Linked DNA regions of Homo sapiens. The protein of the gene in region 1 interacts with the protein of each later gene in a biochemical or structural test. Each region holds a gene or a part of one and is shown on either strand. Other genes may lie near its edges.

What was found.
Region 2: the proteins of RB1 (region 1) and TAF1 form a complex in vitro, tested with the Homo sapiens proteins (4 studies listed by BioGRID).
Region 3: the proteins of RB1 (region 1) and ABL1 form a complex in vitro, tested with the Homo sapiens proteins (3 studies listed by BioGRID).
Region 4: of the proteins of RB1 (region 1) and CCND1, one has a biochemical effect on the other in vitro, tested with the Homo sapiens proteins (15 studies listed by BioGRID, with this or other methods).

The regions. Positions count from the first base shown.
Region 1 is NC_000013.11:48,362,744-48,369,780, reverse strand, and holds part of RB1 (retinoblastoma-associated protein), read right to left. Parts: intron 6,967-7,037; coding exon 6,824-6,966; intron 6,594-6,823; exon of another isoform or gene 4,888-6,593; coding exon 4,810-4,887; exon of another isoform or gene 4,805-4,809; intron 2,288-4,804; coding exon 2,178-2,287; intron 1,255-2,177; coding exon 1,177-1,254; intron 1-1,176. UniProt on the Homo sapiens protein: Tumor suppressor that is a key regulator of the G1/S transition of the cell cycle. The hypophosphorylated form binds transcription regulators of the E2F family, preventing transcription of E2F-responsive genes.
Region 2 is NC_000023.11:71,362,513-71,369,356, forward strand, and holds the start of TAF1 (transcription initiation factor TFIID subunit 1), read left to right. Parts: upstream 1-3,844; 5' UTR 3,845-3,862; coding exon 3,863-3,982; intron 3,983-4,037; exon of another isoform or gene 4,038-4,986; coding exon 4,987-5,101; intron 5,102-5,541; coding exon 5,542-5,658; intron 5,659-6,844. UniProt on the Homo sapiens protein: The TFIID basal transcription factor complex plays a major role in the initiation of RNA polymerase II (Pol II)-dependent transcription.
Region 3 is NC_000009.12:130,838,235-130,845,271, forward strand, and holds part of ABL1 (tyrosine-protein kinase ABL1), read left to right. Parts: intron 1-7,037. UniProt on the Homo sapiens protein: Non-receptor tyrosine-protein kinase that plays a role in many key processes linked to cell growth and survival such as cytoskeleton remodeling in response to extracellular stimuli, cell motility and adhesion, receptor endocytosis, autophagy, DNA damage response and apoptosis.
Region 4 is NC_000011.10:69,651,131-69,654,986, forward strand, and holds the end of CCND1 (G1/S-specific cyclin-D1), read left to right. Parts: coding exon 1-152; 3' UTR 153-3,344; downstream 3,345-3,856. UniProt on the Homo sapiens protein: Regulatory component of the cyclin D1-CDK4 (DC) complex that phosphorylates and inhibits members of the retinoblastoma (RB) protein family including RB1 and regulates the cell-cycle during G(1)/S transition.

The DNA.
Region 1 (7,037 bases):
TTTTCAAAAGCAATATTTGTGCTGAATGAAGAGTAGCAGTTGGTAATCCATGGAAAGAAAAGGAGGAAATTTCAAGAAGAGGGAATATCAAGTACGAGGGTTTTCAAAAAACTTGGAAAGCCCAAGAAACAGAGAAGGCCAAAGTGTGGCTAACACAGAGTGAGAAAGAAAACAAGATGAGGTTGGAGAGGCAACAGAAACCAGACCATATAAGATCTTTTAGGCATTGTTAAGGAATTTGCACTGTATACCAATTGCAATGGGAAGCAGTCAGTGGGTTTAACAGCAAGGTGAATGTAACTGATTTACATTTCTAGGAGAAATTCTGGGGGCTCTATGGAGAATATCTTTGATGGTGAGGAGACAGGAACAATGATGAGACCAGAAGGAGCAAGATCAGGTAGTAGGCTACTGCAAAAAATCCAAGAGAAAGAGAACAATGTCTTGGACAAGAGTTGTGAGAGCAGAAATGGAGAAAAGTAGATGCACTCAGGAAATATTTTGGAGGTAGATTATTCAACAAGCCTTGATAACAGATTTTGATGTGGGAAATGAGTGAGGAAAAAGACATAAAAAATAGTTCTAATCCTTTAAGGTTGCATGCAGATCAAATAGTGATACTTTAATTTTTTCTTTTTTATTTACTGAAATGGAACACATTCCTATTTTAGGTTATGTTCTTTAAGAACAGACAAAACTAGGTCCAATAACCATATCTTCAGCAACCAGTAAAATGCCCAGCACACAAAGATTATATATACACATTTTTTTTTTGAGACGGAGTTTCGCTCTTGTCACCCAGGCTGAAGTGCAATGGCACGATCTCAGCTCTCTGCAACCTCCGCCTCCCGGGTTCAAGCAATTCTCCTGCCTCAGCCTCCCGAGCAGCTGGGATTACAGGCACACACCACCACCCCCAGCTAATTTTTGTATTTCTAGTAGAGACGGGGTTTCACCATGTTGGCCAGGCCGGTCTCAAACTCCTAACCTCAGGTGATCTGCCCGCCTTGGCCTCCCAAAGTGCTGGGATTACAGGTGTGATCCACCACACCTGGCCTTCAATATATATTTCTTACATGTATGTATGAATACATAAAGAAACGTGAACAAATCTGAAACACTATAAAGCCATGAATAACAAAATTATAATATAATTAAAAGTAGGAAAATTCATACCTAACTGGAGTGTGTGGAGGAATTACATTCACCTCTTCATCAAGGTTACTTTTTCGTGGTGTTCTCTGTGTTTCAAAACTAAATAACAATAAGTGAAGTCATTCACATACTGAAAATTTACAATTTGTGCTTTATGCATCAAAAAAGCAGTATAATGCTTCTGTTGTCTCATAAAATCATATAAAATGATAACTCAATAATAGATAGGATAGAAAATAGATGACCCAGCTGCTGCTTAAATAAAATATTTTTCACTACTCTTTTTAATTGTGGGTCTCTTTCCATTATGTTTATGACAAAGAGGTATACCAATCATTAAGTCTTTTTTTAAAAGTGAAAGTCAGATGCTTTCTCCCTGGTGGTATTGATAACCAAGTTGTTCAGTATTAAAAAGCATTAAAACTCAAGTTTTTCAATGCATTATTCCTTCTAAAAACTTTATTTCCACTTAAATAAAATTTAAAACATTTTACTGTGTTTAACTTCTAAATTACGCATATTTTCAGTTTCATATTAAAAGAGTTCATGCTAAAGACACAAAATTAACTTTACTTATGATCAGTCAAAAATTTTAACAATCACTCTCAACCATTCCAATTTTAGGTTTCTACATGATAATAACAGAGACTACACTTTTGTATAAACTTTTTTAAATAAACCAGGCAGGCAATAGTATATGAAAGGATAGAAATAAGGTAGAGACCACTATTTGAAGAAACTAATTACTTTAGCCATTATCTTTTGGTGCACATTTTAAAAAATTATATTCAGTTAACTGCAAAAAGGTAACTGTTATAGGACACACAATTCACATTAAATCTATATTTGTAGATAAGTTATATGCTTAAAATACTGTTAAACTTTTCTTTGTATAAAGACATTTGAAAGTAATTTGTTATAAATGATATCTAAAGGTCACTAAGCTAAAGACTATATAATCTACCTATATCAGTATCAACCTATATCTAAAGCAAATCAATCAAATATACCATGTGCAATACCTGTCTATAGAATCAGTCTGAAGAGTTTTATCATGATCCAAAAATAATCTTGCATCTAGATCTTTATTTTTAAGATAAATTTCTTCGTATCGTTTAGAAAGATTTTCAACCTTGAAAGAAAAAAGTCACTGACAATTATCCTTTACATGTCATTACATCTCTCAGCACACAGAGGCACAGATTTCATTAAAGAATTTTTGTATAATATACATTTAATTTTGTAATATACACTGAGTTCGCATGCAATATAAATAAGGTCTATCTAAAAGTGAGGTACAGAAAATTGCAACATTTGTTCAACTTTGATTTTAGGTCTATTTCGTGCATAGAAAATATTTATTAGAATTTTATGTAGACAAAGATAGCCAATGCTACAAAACAGTACCTAAGATAAAAATAGGTATTATAATAACTGTTTAACTGCCAAGATTTTCCAAACATCCCATATATGCTTTACTTTTAATCTTTTTTTTTTTTTTTTTTTTGAGATGGAGTTTCGCTCTTTCGCCCAGGCTGGAGTGCAGTGGCACAATCTCGGCTCACTGCCACCTCTGCCCCCGGGGTTCAAGCAACTTTCCTGCCTCAGCCTCCCGAGTAGCTGGGATTATAGGTACCTGCTACCATGCCCGGCTAATTTTTGTATTTTTAGTAGAGACGGGGTTTCGCCATGTTGGCCAAGCTGGTCTTGAACTCCTGACCTCAGGTGATCCACCTGCCTCGGCCTCCCAAAGTACTAGAATTACAGGCGTGAGCCACCGCGCCCAGCCTGCTTTTAATCTTTTATGCTTATCAATATAAAATATTTTTTCAAACATTGTTGCAAATCCTCTTGATTACATATTCTACCAATGTTTTCTAAACCCTTTGGTTCACTCCAGTACCCTTCAGTTAAGTATCTTGGGCAAGACAATTAGCTCAATTTATCAGTTCAATTAACACACTTGCACAATTTATTCCCAATCTTAGATACTTTTTCAATTGCTAGAATTTGTAAATCTTTCATCAGTTCTGATCCATAATTTTTTAATTATACTTTAAAAACCAATGCCCAAGAGAAAACTATTGGCATGCCTTCTACTGTGACTTTTAACGCCAAAGTGATTCCAACCTCAGAGAAGTAAAATTGCATTTTAAAAGGAGTGATAGGAAGAAATCCAATTAAATGCAAACTTTTCATTAATCTTCATAAATGTATTAGATAGAACAGTAATCCATGCTTATGTTTAATCATTGTTCCTGTCCTACCTTAGTTGAGGCACTAATTACCAGTCATCTATTGATTGGCTATATTATGTGAAATATTGGAGAAAAAGTAAAATTACTCTTAAGATTTATATTAAAACTATAATCCTTTTAAAGGAGAAAAAAAGATTGCTACAACAGATTTTAAAGTTATGAACAGCCTAGTTTTTGGTACCAAAAGTGGTAACAAGACTCATTAATATAACATTTGGTCCCTTCTTGCCTCTTCAGTACCATATTTTAATTGTTCTGCCCTGTATCCCAACCTTAATGAATTACTTAGAGTTCACTGATCAGACCATACTATCATACATCACTGCACCTTTGAATCTACAATGTCCAACCCTTGGAAATGCTATATCTGTAATGCTTACTCAGATTTGAAATCACATCACCTCTAAACTATTTTCCACAAAACCTATCAGCCCTAGTTTGGATTAGGTAGCTCTCCTTTGAGATATCACAGAACCCTGTGAATACTTTTTTCACACTCTTGTAGACTCCTGTAATGCTCTATTTCTTTGTCAGCCTCTCCCACTAGCACTTTAAGGATAGTGACTGAGAGTGAAATCTCTGTATCCATAGTATCTAGCACGTGCCTGACATATATTAAGCATTCAAAAAATATTTGTTGAATTAATAAATTAATTCAAAAACTAGCTATCAATTCAGGTTACAGAACTAGCAGTCTAGCTATTTTATTTCATGCCTTTTGGTCATAGTGACTAATACTATGTCTTCTAAAACACTGGTTTTGTTCTTCATCATCTATCACAGCATCCTTTTCTCCACATATTTCGTCTTACCATGCAAAGCTCTCAGTTATTCTGTTCTCATTGGAAAGACATTTGTAGCAAAATGCGAAACAAAACAGGTAGATGGATGGAATATCACTAAGGTAAAACACTTCTGCAATAGTCACAGTCATTTCAACAAATACATTTGTATTTTCAATTAAGCAGTTCTTAAAAATCCTCAAAAGAGATGTTCCACAATGTAGTAATGCCAATAATGTTGATGGCATTAATCATGGTTCCTACGCTTAATGAGGCTTACCAAAGCAAATTTAATGGTTTATATTTAGCTATTAAAATTTAGCTATTTAATGGTATTTAGAAGTTTAAAAGTCTATACTTTGATTTTGGAAAAAATTCAATAAAGATTGATTTCTAGTATAAATCACAAAATGATGCTAATACATTTGATTATATACTCAAAAGCTTTTTGTTACTATACAAAAGTTAGTTTCACCACAATTCTACTTGGCTAGATTCTTCTTGGGCAAAAAAAAAATGTGATACACAGTAAATTGATCTAAGAAAGTTAGACAATTATCCTCCCTCCACAGTCTCAAAACATTAATATTTTATTAAATTTCCTTTCAGATTACCTCTGGAAGTCCATTAGATGTTACAAGTCCAAGAGAATTCATAAAAGGTATAAAATTTTTGAAATAAACATTTTTCACCTGAAAAAGATGAAGTTACAACATGATCATTAAAATTTAAAACAAAATCTAATCTCTTGACTCTTGAACAATGCAGGGTAAGTTAGAGGTGTCAATCCCCCATGCAGTAAAAAATCTGTGTATAACTTTTTTATTTTTTATTATTTTCTTAGAGAAGGGGTCTCTCTATATTGCCTAGGCTGAAGTGTAGTGGCTATTCACAGGTGCAATCACATGCATTACAGCTTCAAATGCTTGGGCTCAAGCCATCCTTCCACCTCAGCCTCCCAAGTAGCTGAGACTACAGACCTATCGATTACTTTTGAGTACCCAAAATTTAACTAACAGCCTACTGTTGACTGGAAGCCAACCAATAACATAAAGATTGAATTCACATATATTTTGTATATGTACTATATATACATACTAAATATATCATCTTCTTATGATAAAGATAGAGAAAAGAAAATATTAGGAAAATTGTAAGAAGACAAAATACATTTACAGTAAGTTTATGTCATCTGTTAACAAAAATCGTCCGCCTGAAACAGCAGGCATCTGCAGCTACAGTTTTGTATGTATTTTATGGTATAGTAAATGATAAAATAGACTAGTATCTACATATATTTTGTACATTCAAGACATGCCTTTTTCTTAATTTTTTCTGTATTTGTAGGCTACACGGTTTGCTACAAATTTTTTCAAATTATTGCAAATCTCCAAAATTTTTTCTAATATATGTAATTAAATATATCTGTGTATAAACGGACCCATGCAATTCAAACCTGTTGTTCAAGAGTCAACTGTATATTTGTTGAAATTAGTAAGCCATAGTGCAAAAACTATGATATATCTTGATAAATCATTCTAATACTTCTTAAACTAGATTTTAGGACCACACTCTCACTCCTTCCCAAAGTTAACAGAGAAATTTCAAAGATGTAACATTTTTTACTGCTATCTGGTGTTAGTGATTGTGGACAATAAAACAAACTATGAGAAAAACTGTATGGTAAAAAGGAAAGAAGCAATAGTACCAGATATCCCAAAGTCTAATGTAGACGCTGTAAATAATAAGCTATCAGTCCCTGGAAGCTTGTTTACTCATTATAAAAAGGAGATTGAATACATTATTTGTAAGATTCCTTCTAACATCCACATTCTATGAACAAGACAAGTAATTCCTGGGAATTCATATGTATTCTCCAGCAGTCATTATGTGCTGTAATATTTAGAAAGAGAGTAATTATAGAAGGCCAAACAGAAATTTAATGTTGGTATCACTTATCACTAAACTAAAACACTAGAGCACTAGAGTTTTCTAAGCAGGGCTTTTTTGGTTTGTTTGTTCGTTTTTGGAGACATAGTCTCACTCTGGCGCCCGGGCTGGAGTGCAGTGGTGCAATCATGTCTCACTGTAACCTCAAACTTCTGGGCTCAAGCAATCCTTTTGCCTCAGTCTTCCAAGTAGCTGGGACTACAGGCACATGCCACCATGCCCAGTTCATTTTTTTAAATATGTATTTTGTAGAGACAGAGTCTCGCTATGTTGTTCAGGCTGGTCTAGACCTCCTGGCCTCAAGAAATCCTCCCACTTCGGCCTCCCAAAGAGCTGGGATTACAGGTGTGAGCCACCATGCCCAGCCTTGGCAGGGTATTTTAAAACATTAGGGGTATCAGTAACCTCAGAGGAATAAAAAAAAAAAAAAACTACATTTGAAAACTATTGTCTTGATTATATACTTTTCAGTGATTCCAGAGTGAGGGAGCTACTCTCTTTAAAATCAAAGTAACTAAATATAACGAATTAATTTTTTCTAAATATTTTGCTACTGCAAAAGAGTTAGCACTAATTACAAAAAAAACATGCTCATAACAAAAGAAGTAAATATTGTTAGGGAGAACTTACATCTAAATCTACTTTAACTGTTTTAAAGAAATCATGAAGTTAAATTACCTCATCTATATTACATTCATGTTCTTTACAGAGAACTTCAATAATTCTTGTATCATTTTCTAGTTGTTTTGCTATCCGTGCACTCCTGTTCTGACCTCGCCTGGGTGTTCGAGGTGAACCATTAATGGGTATAACAGCTGTTTCTGTAAAAGTGGTAAATTAGATAAGAACAATTGTACATCCATCATATAAAATAATGAAGTATTCTAACTAT
Region 2 (6,844 bases), on another chromosome or scaffold:
AAGGCGGGAGGACTGCTTGAGCTCAGGAGCCCACCCTGGGCTACATAATGAGACCCTGTCTCTACCAAAAAAAAAAAAGAATATTATGTTATCTTTTATATTTATAGGACCTGAAGTCTCCTTCCACATCCTACAAGCCTCTACCTCTCATTGAATCTGCTTTTTCTCAAGCACAAGCATCCAAGAGACAATATGTTGTACTAAATAACTTTTTTTGAGGCAGAGTCTCGCTCTGTTGCCCAGGCTGGAGTGTGGTGGTGCGATCTCAGTTCACTGCCAACCTCCATCTCTTGGGTTCAAGCGATTCTCTTGCCTCAGCCTCCCGAGTCGCTGGGATTACAGGCGCCCACCACCGCATCCGGCTAATTTTTGTATTTTCAGTAGAGACGAGGTTTCACCATGTTGGCTAGGCTGGTCTCAAACTCCTGACTTCAGGTGATCTGCCCGCCTGGACCTCCCAAAGTGCTGGGATTACAGGAGTGAGCCACCGTGCCCAGCCTATTTTTATTTTTTAAAAACTTTTTATTTTACTGTTTGGACCGAACAATGTGAATATATGAAACCATGTTTTGAATCAAGAATGGTATCTTTCGGCTGGGAGCAGGCTGGGAGATAAAAAAAAAAGAATTGTATCTTTAGGTTAGGTGTGGTGGCTCATACCTGTAATCCCAACACTTTGGGAGGCCAAGGCGGGAGGATTGCTTGGGCTCAGGAGTTCAAGACCACCCTGGGCTACAATAGTGAGACCCTGTCTCTACAAAAAAAAAAAAGTTATCTTTTATATTTATAGGACCTGAAGTCTCCTTCCACATCCTACAAGCCTCTACCTTTATTCAGTCTGCTTTTCCTCAAGCACAAGCATCCAAGAGACAATATCGTACTAAATAACTTTTTTTTTTTTTTTTTTGAGACAGAGTCTCGCTCTGTTGCCCAGGCTGGAGTACAGTAGCGCGATCTCGGCTCACTGCAACCTCCACCTCCCGGGTTCAAGCGATTCTCCAGCCTCAGCCTCCCAAGTAGCTGGGGCTACAGATGTGCGCCACCGTGTTGGCTAATTTTTTTGTATTTTTAGTAAAGATACGGTTTCACCATGTTGGCCAGCTTGGTCTCAAACTCCTGACCTCAGGTGATCTGTCCGCCTCGGCCTCCCAAAGTGCTGGGATTACAGCCGTGAGCCACTGTGCGCGCTGCTACGTAACTATCATAAACTACATTAAAAAGCATTCCAAGCTGGGCGCGGTGGCTCACGCCTGTAATCCCAGCACTTTGGGAGGCCAAGGCGGGTGGATCACCTGAGGTCAGGAGTTTGAGACCAGCCTGGTTAACACGGTGAAACCCCGTGTCTACTAAAAATACAAAAATTCGGGTGTGGTGGTATGCTCCTATAGTCCCAGCTACTCAAGAGGCTGAGACTGGAGAATCGCTTGAACCCGGGAGAAGGAGGTCGGCAGTGCACTCCACCCTGGGCAACAGAGTGAGACTTTCTCAAAAAAAAAATAAGAAAAAGAAAGAAAGATCATCCTTTCGCATTCTCCCAATATAACTGATTTAGGCAAGGGACATCAATGAATGCTAAAACCACATTGGGTGCAAGGTCAATGGGGAAAAGAATATTCACAATTTATTCTGCAGAAGGATGGGCTCAGTACCAAAAGACTGAAAAAAAAAAAAGAATATTCACACAATCTCTAAGTACCTGTGGATTACTTAGTAATTACACAGGGTTGTACCTTTGTGATGGAGCAATCTGGTGGTGACTACTTTATCAAGGTGATGAAATTTAGCATCACCAATACTAGGACAACACTGTATTTGACAGTGTACCTTCTGATGGCTGATAAAATATTTAACCTGGGCCGGGCGCGGAGGCTCACTCCTGTAATTTCCAGCACTTGAGGCGGGCGGATCACGAGGTCAGGAGTTTGAGATCAGTGTGGCCAATATGGTGAAACCCCGGCTCTACTAATCATACAAAAATTAGCCAGGGGTGGTGGCGCCGAGATCGCACCACAGCACTTTATCCTGGGAGACAGAGCAAGAGACTCCGTCTCAAAAAAAGAAAAAAAAAAAAAGGCCGGGCGTGTGGTGGCTCACGCCTGTAATCCCAGCATTTTGGGAGGCCGAGGTGGGCGGATCACGAGGTCAGGAAATCAAGACCATCCTGGCTAACACAGTGAAACCCCGTCTCCACCAAAAATACAAAAATTAGCCGGGCTTGGTGGCGGGCGCCTGTAGTCCCAGATACTTGGGAGGCTGAAGCAGGAGAATGGTGTGAACCCAGGAGGTGGAGCTTGCAATGAGCCGAGATAGCACCACTGCACTCCACCCTGGGCAACAGAGCGAGACTACGTCTCAAAAAAAAAAAGGAAACAAGAGAAATTCGGATCATGGAATGTTTTCAAGACAACTTGCCTGGATTCTTCCAAATATTTAGTGTCATGAAAAACAAACAAGAAGGCAGGTGATTCTGGACTAAAGGAAGATGACCAAATACAATGCATGAAACGTGAATGGATCCTAGTATTGGAAAAAAGGGAGAATGAGGAAGAGTGCTATGATGTGGTAAAGAAATTATTTCAGTCTATATTATCATAATATGTGAAAAAAGCAAGGTGAAAGCCGGGGTGTTGGCTCATGGCTGCAATCCCAGCACTTTGGGAGGCTGAAACGGGCAGATTGCTTGAGCCCAGGAGTCTGAGACCAGCCTGTGCAACATGACGAAACCCCGTAAAATGTTCCAACTAGGACAACTGGGGAAATTTAAGTGCGGACTCTTCCTTAAATAATATTGACTTACTTCCTAAAGTTGTGATAAAGGTACTTTGGTTCCATAGTTAAGATGCTTATTTTTAGGAGTGAAGAACAAGATGCCCATAAATGGTTTAGAAAAACAAAAATCCTAGCAAAATGTTAACCATTGTGAGTCTAGGTGAGGGGTCAGCTGTTCATTTTACTAAACTTTCACATTTTCCGAAATAAAACGTTGGGGGAACAAGTATTTTTTTTGAGGCGGGCTGGAGTGCAGTGGCCCGATCACAGGTCACTGCAGACTCCAACTCCTGGCTCCCACCTCAGACCCCCCAACAGCTGGGACTACAGGCACTGGCCACCACATCTGGCTAATTTTTTTGATTTTGTGTATGGATGGAGTCTCGCTTTCTTGTCCAGGCTGGCCTCATACTCGTGGGCTCAAGCGATCCTCCCACCTCGGCCTCTCAAAGTGCTGGAATTACAGGCGTAAGCCACCGCGTCCGGTCAAAAAATCAATTTCTAGGGAAAAATGTCAACTCAAAACAAGTAACCTGCATAGCTCGGGAATGCCTGTATAATTTACGTCAAGTCTCTCCTTGGGACGGACCGGTGAAATTGCACGCAGCACAAAGACCGGCTCTTACCCTTACTTCCGGGTATTGTGGTACAGGAACCCGAGGTTGCCTGCGCGTAAGCCACGTGACTCGAGCAGCTCCTTCTGATTGGAGGAAGAGCCACTGCTCTAATTCGGTGCCGTGAGAAAGCTCGCGCGCGGAGCAGTGGGAGCGGGCGGGACTGAATATTTTCTTTGACCAACCGCTTTCCACATATCCATCCTCCTGATCCCGTAGCGTCGAATCAAAAGCCGTTAGTAAAGTAGTTACTTCTTTCTCTTAGGATAGCCGGTCTTTCCGGGTTTTCCCCCCCTTCCCCCTCCCCTCTCCCCACTTCCCCCTCCCTTTCCCCTCTGTTTTGAGCTTCCGGTAGAGGCTGGTAGGGTAAGGGAGCTCAGTAAGTCACTTCTGGGCGACTGTTGTTTTATTTCCGGTCTATGGGACCCGGCTGCGATTTGCTGCTGCGGACAGCAGCTACCATCACTGCTGCCGCCATCATGTCAGACACGGACAGCGACGAAGATTCCGCTGGAGGCGGCCCATTTTCTTTAGCGGGTTTCCTTTTCGGCAACATCAATGGAGCCGGGCAGCTGGAGGGGGAAAGCGTCTTGGATGATGTGAGGGGGTGGGCGTGGGGGTAGGGCTCGGGGGGTGGGGCTAAGCAGAGGAAGGAGGTGCGGGGAGGAAAGGAGAGGGTGCTCAGGCAGCGAGAACAGGGCGCAGCTAACGCCGGGGAGGAGGATCCCGTCCTCATGGGTGCGGGAGCAACGTGGCGTGGGAGTGATCGTTCTGGGGGAGAGTGGGCAGAAGAGAGCGCGAGGCGAGCCCGGGGCCAGGGGCGCAGGGAATAGTGGCTTTGGAGCTAGCGCTCTGCCGACCAGACAGTAGGACACATGCTGGTTTCGCCTACTGAGATGGCTTCCCACCCGTAACCTGCTTGGAGATTCTTGACACTGCCTGCCCCTCTGACATCGCTGCCCTGAGATGGCTCTATAGAGCCAGAGGACTGGACAGGACCTGCCTCCCGCTCGTTTGGTTCCGGCCTCAGGCTTAGGACAATGGGGTGTTCCTAGCACCCGAGCGGGCCTCCTGGTCACAGTGCGCCTTTTAGGTGGCTCTCCCAGCGTCTTCACTGACTTTCGTGAAATAGTGTCCTGCGCCCTAGTGAAACTACCCTGCCTTCACTTAGGCCCGTTTTCTTGAGGAGTGAAGCTGTCGGCCGCTGTGGCCCCTCCTGTGCCGCAGGCGCATGCGAAACAGGGACCGAACGAGCCCCGCCTCGACGCCTCCAATCCCACTGATCCCCCTGCCTCGGCCCTCGTTCCGAGAACGACCGTTCCATTCATTCAGTCTTGGCAGTAGTTATTTGATTCGTCTTCTCTTGTAGTATACTTTAAAGTGTGGGCGATGCAGTTGGCTGTGGTGCTTTAATAAAGATCTGATCGATGCGGAGTTTGGTAGATGTATATTACAGTTCTCGAACGTGTTGCTTGTTTTGGCACACTGCACAGTCATTTTTCATGTGGATTTGTGACTTTGTCGTGGACCAGGGAAATAAGTCCTGTGGTGTGGGAGTCGTAGGTTTAGTTGTTATCTTCGACTCGTGCTGTCCCTTTTTCAGGAATGTAAGAAGCACTTGGCAGGCTTGGGGGCTTTGGGGCTGGGCAGCCTGATCACTGAACTCACGGCAAATGAAGAATTGACCGGGACTGACGGTGCCTTGGTAAATGATGAAGGTGAAGTCTGGGTTGTGGGGAGTAGGCGGGGGAGGAGGCTAGCCACCTACTATGTATGTACTTTTTTGTGTGTGTAAGACGGAGTTTCGCTCTGTCTCCGAGGTTGGAGTGCAGTGGGGCGATCTGGGCTGACTGCAGCCTCCGCCACCCGGGTTCAAGCATTTCTCCTGTCTCAGCCTCCTGAGTAGCTGGGACTACAGGCACGCACCACCACGCCCGGCTAATTTTTGTATTTTTAGTAGAGACAGGGTTTCATCATATTGGTCAGACTGGTCTTGAACTCCTGGCCTGAGGTGATCCGTCTGGCTTGGCCTTCCAAAGTGCTGGGATTACAGGCGTGAGCCACCGCATCCAGCCTGTACATGTACTTTTAAATGGGAATTATCTGAGGGAGTGAGGGTCGCTTACTGTTGTTGCGATTCTCCCTGCTTTTTTCATAGGGTGGGTTAGGAGTACAGAAGATGCTGTGGACTATTCAGACATCAATGAGGTGGCAGAAGATGAAAGCCGAAGATACCAGCAGACGATGGGGAGCTTGCAGCCCCTTTGCCACTCAGGTGATTCTTTGGTGTATTGGCTTGAACATTCCAGTGCATTATCCTGCTGTATAGTCCAGTTTGGGCTCTGGTTTCTATACCCGCTGTCTGCCATTGTTTCTGCTCTCTATGCCTTTGCTTTGGCTCCTCCACTCCCTTTGTCAGGTCAGTTCCAAGTAGCTGCTATCTTTTTTTGTGTTCTGGCCAGTCTTAACCGTATTCATGTGGTTATTCCTCACACTGTTCAGTCATGAATTCTTAGTTAATGACAAGTAGCTTTCTTGTCACCTGGTATTTGAATACCTACAGGGTTTGTGAGATACACTTCAAAGTTGGAAACTATGAAACAAATTCAGTTTTTGCCCTTAAGGAATGGATAGTTCAAGAAGGATACAACGTCATACATAAGCAATGAACTAAGGCAGGACGTGGTGGCTCACCAGATTACCTGAGGTCGGGAGCTTGAGACAGCCTGACCAATATGGAGAAATCCCGTTTACTAAAAATAAAAAATTAGCCAGGCGTGGTGGCGCATGACTGTAATCCCAGGTACTCGGGAGGCTGAGGCAGGAGAATTGCTTCAAACCGGCAGGTGGAGGTTGCAGTGAGCCGAGATCGTGCCACTGCACTCCAGCCTGGGCAGCAAGAGTGAGACACTCCGTCTCAAAAAAAAAAAAAAAAACCCAATATAAAACAACTGTTTTTTTTTTTTTTTCCGAGACGGAGTGTCTCACTTTCTTGCCCAGGTTGGAGTGCGGTGACACGATCTCGGCTCACTGCAATCTCCACCTCCCGGTTTGAAGCAATTCTCCTGCCTGAGCCTCCCAAGTAGCTGGGACTACAGGGGCCCGCCACCAAGCCCGGCTATTTTTTTGTATTTTTAGTAGAGACAGGGTTTCACCGTGTTAGCCAGGATGGTCTCGATCTCCTGACCTCGTGATCCGCCTGCCTCGGCTTCCCAAAGTGCTGGGATTACAGGCGTGAGCCACCACGCCCGGCCACATCTGGCCAATTTTTTTGTATTTTTAGTAGAGAAGGGGTTTCACCATGTTGGCCAGATTGGTTTCGAACTCCTTACCTCAAGTGACCCTGCTCCCCTCGGTCTCCATAAGTGTTAGGATTACAGGTGTGAGCCACCGCACCCTGCCTAAAACAATGAACTTGATACCTGCTTGCAAATATGTTTTTTTCCTCTCTGGTATAGGGT
Region 3 (7,037 bases), on another chromosome or scaffold:
TTGGGAGAGCCCACTTTTAGCCACTGGATGCTCTACTGATGTCTCTTTTGGAATTCACTGTGATTTTCAAAATGGTATCTCCAGAAACTCCTCCAATTAATCCCTGAAATGTAAGGGTAGTCTCTTTTTCTTTTCTAGAAACCTGATCCTGGCAAAATGATTAGCTTTAACAGTAGGATTAATTTTTTTTAAATGTATATAAAAATACTTGTATGTAAGAAATCCTAAAAGGGTATTTAGTGAAAAGTAATTCCCTCTCCTATTCATTTTCCCCACCTAGAGGCAATCACCCTGGAGTTTTATGTGTGTCCTTCTAGAAATACTGTGTGCACATATAAGCATTTATTATAACATGTGAATTTTGCTCTCCAGCTTTTTGTGAATATGCATGTTTATAGCAGTATCTATTCACCAGGACCGCATTTAGCTTTGCAATATTCGGTCTACTTTGAACACTGAATTTTCTGATTATTTCTTTCCCCTGGAGACGTCAAAGAAAACATGAACACTAGCCTTTTGAATTCAGGGTTTTCTTTTCATTTTATTTTCATTTGTTCATGTGTTTGTATTTACATACATTGTGCCTGAATATTGTACATGTATGTGACAGTTGTGTACTGTAGAATCAAAAACTAATGTCTGTGAACTGAACTCTTCTTGAACTTTTTGTTGTTGTTGTTATTGTTGCTTTTGGAGATAGGGTCTTGCTCTGTCACCCAGGCTGGACTGCAGTGGCACAATCACAGCTCACTGCAGCCTTGAGCTCCTGGTCTCAAGCAACCCTCCCACCTCAGCCTCCCAAGTAGCTGGGGCTGCAGGCATATGCTACCTGACTAATTAAAATTTTTTTTTTTTTTTTGTAGAGACAGGGTCTCACTATTTTTACTAGTTTGCCCGGGCCAAGCCAGTGTTGAACTACTGGCCTCAAGTGATCCTCCCACCTTGGCCTCCCCAAAGTGCATCCCTACAGGCATGAGCCACTGCACTCAGCCTGAACTTTCGAAATTTATTTTAAGGGCCCACTTTTAAATGCTTCTTTTCAGCAGCTAACTTTCCAGCGGATGCTTCATGTGGTGCCAGCCATACAGATACGCTTTTAGAACTTGAGCTTTGGAGAAGCTTATGCTTGCTTTCTGCTCTCTCCTGAGGTCATCAGATACTTCCCTTGTTCAGTAACAAAGAAAGTGAGACTCTTTCTGTTACCTAATAAAAGGCCAGTCTGTCCATTTCATTTTGGGTGCTATTAACATTGTTGACCATTTACAATGTCACAGGCCCTGGCACTGAGCACATCATGTGCAGCCTCACTTAATTTTCACACCAGTGCCCTGAGGTTTCTAGAAAAGAGGAAGGGCCCCAGTTTAGGTGGCAGTACTTTTCAATTTGGAGGCAGGAGATCCCAGTTTTCCTCTGACCTCTCTGAGCTTCCGTGTTTTTACCTCTAAGACAGAGAGACCAATCTCTGTTCAGCCACCTTAGAGGATTGTTTTGAGGGTCTATAAGATGATTGAGGGAAAGCTCTGAAACTGGTAAGAGTTAAATGTATGTTTGTGTTATGTTGATACGAGATTCCTCTGAGATGCTCTTTAGTCCAGGCAGGTTTATGGCTCACACAGCGTTCCTAGGGTCTCATTCTTCTGCACAGGCAGGCAGCTCCCGAGCCAGCCAGTCTGGACCCAAATGCCACCTGTGCTCTTGGCTGGTCTTGCGCATTCACCGAGGCTCACTGTACCTTGGTGTTCCCATTTCTAAAATAAGGCCTGTAGTAATCCCTACCTCACTGAGTTGTTGAGAGACTTCATGTAAATTGTTTAGCAGGGAGCCTGGCACAGAACAAGAGCCTAGCAGAAAAGTAAGCTGTTGTTACTTTAAGCAAATATTTAGCAGCCTAAAATGGTGGCTTTACCAGTTTCTGTAATGGTTGAAGTGATGACAGAATTCAGCCAATCCCACCCATAGTTTTTCTTGCTAATAAAGCAGTTTGTTTCTAAGTGTGTTTTGATGCGTATAATTAATACTTCCTGTCCTTGATTTTTGGCTGAAAAATGTCTTCTCTTCCTCGCACCCTCTGTTATTCCCGTAGTGAATATTTTCATTGTGGAAGAGAAATTCCCATTGGCTCATGGTTGGCATTTTATTTCTCCTGTCCAGAGACAATATTTCCACAGCCTCAAACGTGAAAACTGAAAATCTGGTGCCACTTACCACCTTGTAAAATCAAGTCATTGTAATTGTGCCAGTATAATCATTGATCTGAAATAAAAGCAGAAAATAAATCAATGGGTAGCTTTCTTAAATACATAAGAACTAAAGATCAAATGGGATATTGGAAGACTTTAACTTTTCCTCCATAATGGTGGATCTTAATTAAACACACAGAAGAACAATTTATAAAATAAATTCATAGGTTTGTTTGTTCTTTTTTAGTGTCAATTTTTAAAACTATCTCTTTTTTAATTAAAAAAAATAGAGATGGGTCTCACTATGTCGCCCAGGCTGGTCTCAAACTCCTGGGCTCAAGCAATCCTCCCACCTCAGCCTCCCAAAGTGCTGGGATTACAGGCATGAGCCACTGCACCCAGCCTAAAACTGTCTCAAAAGTAGACAGCATAATGAACTCCCATGTACTTATGATGTGGCTTTAACAATTATCAGCTTATAGTCAGTCTTGTTTTCTTACATAATAAAGTTACAGTTTCAAAGCCATTAGGAAGAATAGCTTGCTAATTATAATTACTTAGTTTTGATAGTGTAACTTTGTCCTCAGATGGGTAGAATCGTTACTCTGGAACAGGGGTGTCCAATCTTGGCTTCCCTGGGCCACATTGGGAGAAAAATTGTCTTGGGCCACACGTAAAACATACTAACGATAGCTGATGAGCTAAACCAACAAAACAAATCCCACAAAAATCTCATTTCTTTTTTTTTTTGAGACAAGAGTCTCACTCTGTCGCCCAGACTGGAGTGCAGTTGCACGATCTCAGCTCACTGCAAGCTCCGCCTCCTGGGTTCACGCCATTCTCCTGCCTCAGCCTCCCTAGTAGAGGGTACTACAGGCGCCCGGGGGTTTCACCATGTTAGCCAGGATGGTCTCCATCTCCTGACCTCGTGATCCGCCCACCTCGGCCTCCCAAAGCCCTGGGATTACAGGCGTGAGCCACTGCACCGGGCCAAAAATCTTATAATGTTTTTAAGAAAGTTTGCAAATTTGTTAGGCCACATTCAAAGCCGTCCTGGGCCATATGCAGCCCGTGGGCCATGGGTTGAACAAGCTTGCTCTAGAAATTGGTTTTCAGGCCGGGCGCGGTGGCTGACGCCTGTAATCCCAGCACTTTGGGAGGCCGAGGCAGGTGGTCACCTGAGGTCAGGAGTTCGAGACCAGCCTGGCCAACATGCTGAAACCCTGTCTCTACTAAAAATATAAAAAATTAGCCAGGCGTAGTGGGGAGTGCCTGTAATCCCAGCTACTCAGGAGGCTAAGGCAGGAGAATTACTTGAACCTGGGAGGCAGAGGTTGCAGTGAGCCGCGATCTCACCATTGTACTCCAGCCTGGGCAACGAGCAAAAACTCCAGCTCAAAAAAAAAAGTTGGTTTTCAAATCCTTCTTTCTTTACCATGTTACACCATAAATATTTTTGTTATATTGCGTGTGTTGAGTACTGGTGATAGGGAAGACAGAGAGAAATAGGTGGGAAGGAGATAGAGAGAGAGAGAGGGAGGGAGGAAGGGGAGACATAAGGGGGAAATCTATAGAGACAGAGACTGAGAGACAAATACAAAAAGGTTGAGACAGGAAAGGGAAAAAAAAACAAGCTGGGAGGGAAGGAAGACTGAGAGAAGGGAGACAAAGAGGAATAGGATGGCCAGTGGGGCTGGGGTGGGTGGGTACAGAGAGAGAATGAGTGAGAGCAAGAGAAGCGCAGGAGACAGATGATGGACAGGCAGCTGATGTATGGATGGGTAGCTGGAGAGAGAGGCCATCAGTAACTTCACATCTCTCTGTTTCCATTTCCTGCCCTCAAATGCCTTCATAATAGAGTCTACGTAATAAGGTTATAGGGATTCAGTGCAGATGAAGTGCTGGCACTTGATACGGGATCAGTAAGTATTAGCTATTATTCTATCACATTAAGTTGCATAAACTTTAACCTCATTACTCTTAAATTCTCTATAGAAACCTAGTCTTTATCTGTCTTACAAGCCCTCAAATTTAGCTAATAGCGTTGTTCATTGAATACCTTAAAATTGTATTTAAAGACAGGCCGTGAATACAATTAGGCATTGCTTTTTGAAGCCAAAATACCATGAGGGTGGGGAGGGTCATGTTCATTTACCCAGATCAGCAATAAAAATACTAATGGCTAACAAGGCTTTCTGGGGAAATTGCCTGTCATTGGGTAGCCCAGTGCCTCTGGTGTCAGCTGACCCCGGAGTCCATGAAGACATGTTAAAAGAAGAGGAAATGTGAATGCTTTCAAACCAGCCATGGCTGGCAGCAGAAGGGGAGGCCTTTCAGTCTGTTGCAAATGGCCTGTGACAATAAAAATGCCTTTGTGGGTATTAGCAGGCTGACTGTGGACAGTCTGGATCTGCGGCCACTGCAGGGATTCCTGGAACCTGTTGGGAAGGTGTCCGGCGAGCTCACTGTGGTGTCTGTTAGGAATCTGGAGCAAATCCTATTTCTTTTGAAAGCACAGAGAACTGTGTTTTTACATTATACCTTTAGGATTTTGGCCATGGTTTATATTTCAGTCAAAACAAATCATTATGTTCCCTAGGCTTTTATATAGGTTTTCCTGGTCAGGTTGCATTTGTTTTTCAACTTTACTATCTGTCATTATTGCTGCTCTTATTACAGGTTAACAGATTATTAAACTGCACTTTTCAGTACCTTGTAGCTAAAGACAGACAAGTGCAGGGTGTTCCACATCTGAGTTCACCCAGCAGTGCTGTGTTGTTGCGTTGCACTGAGCAGGCACAGAAGGCTCTGAGATATGAGAGACTTGGTCTCTACCCCAGAGGAGTTTACATTGTTGTGGTGGCAGAAGAGAAGGCGTGGCATAAGAGAAGACGCGGTTGTTCTGTAGTGAGCATCCCAGTGTCAGGTGCCACAGTTGGCATCCATGCAGAAATTCTCTGCATGCAGGATTCATTGAGCCCTCCCGACAGCCCAACTAGGTTGATGCCATGCCGTTGTTGCCCTGTTGTGCAGTTGAGAAACTGAGGCTCAGAAACAAATGTCTTCAAGACATGCTGGTGCTGAGGTTTGAACAAGGCCTGTCCACCCAGAGCCCATGCTTTTTGTACTGCTGGGGACATGTGAACAGATTGCTTACTGGGTGATAGATGCAGGGTGGTGATAGAGACAGACACCAGGTACCCAAATGGGTTAAAGGAGAAGCATCCTGTTGTGGGCGAGGTGATGGGGAGGAGGAAGGACCGGTTAGAGAAGGTTTATGGGAGATGGGGAGGCCAGGAAGAGCAGAAGAGGCTGGGGAACGAACTCTAGGGAGAGTAAATGGCACTTGTCACAGTGCAGTCAGGAGAGGCAAGCAACAGGAGGCCTGGGGGATCTGAAAGGAGTTTGGAGAGGCTGGAATGGAAAGCAGGAGTAGAGGGCCAGATGCTCCCAGTCTCAACCCTGAAGAGCCTGGCATGCCTGCTTCAGGAGCTCAGACTTTTACTATAGTGGTGGAAGGAATAACAACCCCAGCCATTTTTTGAGGGCCTGTGCATGCCTAGGCCCTCAAAAACATGTCCCATGTTAGCTGCAAACTGCCAGCTACCCTGCAAAGCACATCATGATCCCAGCATTGCCCCCGATGACACTGCCAGTAAGTGGTAGCTGACCATTGGGAGACAGGGCCACCTCCCAAGCCCATGCTCTCTTCTGCCTCTCGGCTGGCAGCCATCTCTAAGGGATTTGAAGCAAGAGAGTGACCTGGTCAGGTCTGCATTTGAGAAAGATGGCCCTGATAGTAGGGAGTGGAGGTGGAATGGCCAAAGGGGGACCCAGCCAAGGGCGTGGTAGAGCATGGAAAGGACAGAAGTGATGAGAGATTGAGGAGGAAAAGTGCCAAGATGCAGGGTGGGAACTGACAGAGGATGACTTCCAGCCTCAGTCCTGATATGGGCGTCAATGGCAGGTGTTCAGAATGGCCTTGAAGATAGTGGCATCTCTATTTATGAGTGTCTTTGTACTCCATTTCCAGTAATTGGAGACTTTTTCACCGTAGATTCTTGGAAGGTGACACAATTTTTTTTTTTTCCTTTTTGGTTGAGGGAGGGGGACAGGGACTGTGTATCTTCAGAAAGGTTAATATTTGAGGCCAAGGCAGGCAGATCACTTGAGGTCAGGAGTTCAAGACCAGCCTGGCCAACATGGTGAAACCCCGTCTTTACTAAAGATATAAAAATTAGCTGGGCATGGTGGTAGGCGCCTGTAATCCTAGCTACTCAGGAGGTTGAGGCAGGAGACTCACTTGAACCCGGGAGGCGGAGGTTGAAGTGAGCCAAGATCGCGCCACCGCACTCCAGCCTGAATGACAAGAGTGAAACTCGGTTTCCCCACCAAACAAAAAAAGAAATACCTAGTTTCTACCAGAGACAGTCACAGGCACTGTACTTCTACTCTGGTTTGTTACCTGTGTTCTTAAAAAAATTAAATGCTACATTTTAGTAAGAGGTTAGTGAAATAAAATTTTAATTTTTCCCATCAGAGGACATGGAGCCCTTGAATTCTATCCCAGACTCCCAGGGTCTTCCAGGTTAACAAGTCCTGCACTAAGGAATTGGCTCAGTAAAACCTCAGCATTCTCACAGGAAGAGCCTAAAAAGGAGACTGGGATAAATTAGTGAGAGGTCCAAATTATGCAATTTTCTTTTAAAATAAATGCAGTTTTATTACTTTCCACTTGTAGCCATTATAGGCAGTAGATTAAATGAGTTTCTAGAGAAACCTCCTTTAAAAATAAAGTTATTTAATTAGTCCAAGGTTTAAATATTTCCCCTGGAATCTTTTACATGACAATGTCTT
Region 4 (3,856 bases), on another chromosome or scaffold:
CCTGCCAGGAGCAGATCGAAGCCCTGCTGGAGTCAAGCCTGCGCCAGGCCCAGCAGAACATGGACCCCAAGGCCGCCGAGGAGGAGGAAGAGGAGGAGGAGGAGGTGGACCTGGCTTGCACACCCACCGACGTGCGGGACGTGGACATCTGAGGGCGCCAGGCAGGCGGGCGCCACCGCCACCCGCAGCGAGGGCGGAGCCGGCCCCAGGTGCTCCCCTGACAGTCCCTCCTCTCCGGAGCATTTTGATACCAGAAGGGAAAGCTTCATTCTCCTTGTTGTTGGTTGTTTTTTCCTTTGCTCTTTCCCCCTTCCATCTCTGACTTAAGCAAAAGAAAAAGATTACCCAAAAACTGTCTTTAAAAGAGAGAGAGAGAAAAAAAAAATAGTATTTGCATAACCCTGAGCGGTGGGGGAGGAGGGTTGTGCTACAGATGATAGAGGATTTTATACCCCAATAATCAACTCGTTTTTATATTAATGTACTTGTTTCTCTGTTGTAAGAATAGGCATTAACACAAAGGAGGCGTCTCGGGAGAGGATTAGGTTCCATCCTTTACGTGTTTAAAAAAAAGCATAAAAACATTTTAAAAACATAGAAAAATTCAGCAAACCATTTTTAAAGTAGAAGAGGGTTTTAGGTAGAAAAACATATTCTTGTGCTTTTCCTGATAAAGCACAGCTGTAGTGGGGTTCTAGGCATCTCTGTACTTTGCTTGCTCATATGCATGTAGTCACTTTATAAGTCATTGTATGTTATTATATTCCGTAGGTAGATGTGTAACCTCTTCACCTTATTCATGGCTGAAGTCACCTCTTGGTTACAGTAGCGTAGCGTGCCCGTGTGCATGTCCTTTGCGCCTGTGACCACCACCCCAACAAACCATCCAGTGACAAACCATCCAGTGGAGGTTTGTCGGGCACCAGCCAGCGTAGCAGGGTCGGGAAAGGCCACCTGTCCCACTCCTACGATACGCTACTATAAAGAGAAGACGAAATAGTGACATAATATATTCTATTTTTATACTCTTCCTATTTTTGTAGTGACCTGTTTATGAGATGCTGGTTTTCTACCCAACGGCCCTGCAGCCAGCTCACGTCCAGGTTCAACCCACAGCTACTTGGTTTGTGTTCTTCTTCATATTCTAAAACCATTCCATTTCCAAGCACTTTCAGTCCAATAGGTGTAGGAAATAGCGCTGTTTTTGTTGTGTGTGCAGGGAGGGCAGTTTTCTAATGGAATGGTTTGGGAATATCCATGTACTTGTTTGCAAGCAGGACTTTGAGGCAAGTGTGGGCCACTGTGGTGGCAGTGGAGGTGGGGTGTTTGGGAGGCTGCGTGCCAGTCAAGAAGAAAAAGGTTTGCATTCTCACATTGCCAGGATGATAAGTTCCTTTCCTTTTCTTTAAAGAAGTTGAAGTTTAGGAATCCTTTGGTGCCAACTGGTGTTTGAAAGTAGGGACCTCAGAGGTTTACCTAGAGAACAGGTGGTTTTTAAGGGTTATCTTAGATGTTTCACACCGGAAGGTTTTTAAACACTAAAATATATAATTTATAGTTAAGGCTAAAAAGTATATTTATTGCAGAGGATGTTCATAAGGCCAGTATGATTTATAAATGCAATCTCCCCTTGATTTAAACACACAGATACACACACACACACACACACACACAAACCTTCTGCCTTTGATGTTACAGATTTAATACAGTTTATTTTTAAAGATAGATCCTTTTATAGGTGAGAAAAAAACAATCTGGAAGAAAAAAACCACACAAAGACATTGATTCAGCCTGTTTGGCGTTTCCCAGAGTCATCTGATTGGACAGGCATGGGTGCAAGGAAAATTAGGGTACTCAACCTAAGTTCGGTTCCGATGAATTCTTATCCCCTGCCCCTTCCTTTAAAAAACTTAGTGACAAAATAGACAATTTGCACATCTTGGCTATGTAATTCTTGTAATTTTTATTTAGGAAGTGTTGAAGGGAGGTGGCAAGAGTGTGGAGGCTGACGTGTGAGGGAGGACAGGCGGGAGGAGGTGTGAGGAGGAGGCTCCCGAGGGGAAGGGGCGGTGCCCACACCGGGGACAGGCCGCAGCTCCATTTTCTTATTGCGCTGCTACCGTTGACTTCCAGGCACGGTTTGGAAATATTCACATCGCTTCTGTGTATCTCTTTCACATTGTTTGCTGCTATTGGAGGATCAGTTTTTTGTTTTACAATGTCATATACTGCCATGTACTAGTTTTAGTTTTCTCTTAGAACATTGTATTACAGATGCCTTTTTTGTAGTTTTTTTTTTTTTTATGTGATCAATTTTGACTTAATGTGATTACTGCTCTATTCCAAAAAGGTTGCTGTTTCACAATACCTCATGCTTCACTTAGCCATGGTGGACCCAGCGGGCAGGTTCTGCCTGCTTTGGCGGGCAGACACGCGGGCGCGATCCCACACAGGCTGGCGGGGGCCGGCCCCGAGGCCGCGTGCGTGAGAACCGCGCCGGTGTCCCCAGAGACCAGGCTGTGTCCCTCTTCTCTTCCCTGCGCCTGTGATGCTGGGCACTTCATCTGATCGGGGGCGTAGCATCATAGTAGTTTTTACAGCTGTGTTATTCTTTGCGTGTAGCTATGGAAGTTGCATAATTATTATTATTATTATTATAACAAGTGTGTCTTACGTGCCACCACGGCGTTGTACCTGTAGGACTCTCATTCGGGATGATTGGAATAGCTTCTGGAATTTGTTCAAGTTTTGGGTATGTTTAATCTGTTATGTACTAGTGTTCTGTTTGTTATTGTTTTGTTAATTACACCATAATGCTAATTTAAAGAGACTCCAAATCTCAATGAAGCCAGCTCACAGTGCTGTGTGCCCCGGTCACCTAGCAAGCTGCCGAACCAAAAGAATTTGCACCCCGCTGCGGGCCCACGTGGTTGGGGCCCTGCCCTGGCAGGGTCATCCTGTGCTCGGAGGCCATCTCGGGCACAGGCCCACCCCGCCCCACCCCTCCAGAACACGGCTCACGCTTACCTCAACCATCCTGGCTGCGGCGTCTGTCTGAACCACGCGGGGGCCTTGAGGGACGCTTTGTCTGTCGTGATGGGGCAAGGGCACAAGTCCTGGATGTTGTGTGTATCGAGAGGCCAAAGGCTGGTGGCAAGTGCACGGGGCACAGCGGAGTCTGTCCTGTGACGCGCAAGTCTGAGGGTCTGGGCGGCGGGCGGCTGGGTCTGTGCATTTCTGGTTGCACCGCGGCGCTTCCCAGCACCAACATGTAACCGGCATGTTTCCAGCAGAAGACAAAAAGACAAACATGAAAGTCTAGAAATAAAACTGGTAAAACCCCAGCGTGGTGCCTGCCTCTTTGCTTCCTGGGCTGGCCGTGAGCCAGGGACGCGTGTCCTGGTGCCCTAGAACCAGGGCAGGGTGGCAGGCTTGGCGGATGTGGGAGGCCGCAGCCTGTCCTGTGCGCTGTGGGAAGTTCAGCAGCATCCTGACCTCCATCCCCGGGATGACAGTCACGCCACCCGCCGTGACAACCAAGAATGTCTCCTGACACTGCCACATCCCCGGGGGTGGGGACAGAATCCAGCCAGGAGCAGGCACACCCCTCCCAACTGGGAGGAAGCCCTCAGCACAGGTGTGTGAGGTGGGAGGCGGTGTCCTGTCCCCGGGAGGCTCCAGAGAATAATTTGCAGGCTGCCTGGCTGGGTGAGCCCACCTCCAACCACGCGAGACAACAGCTCCGGCCTGGGTGACGTGAGCGGTGCCCATTGATGGGGAACATCTTCCCCCTCTTCCTTGCCCCACCAGTTTGTCTTCCCGGGTTATTTGCAGATAGGAAAATAAATAAAGCCGG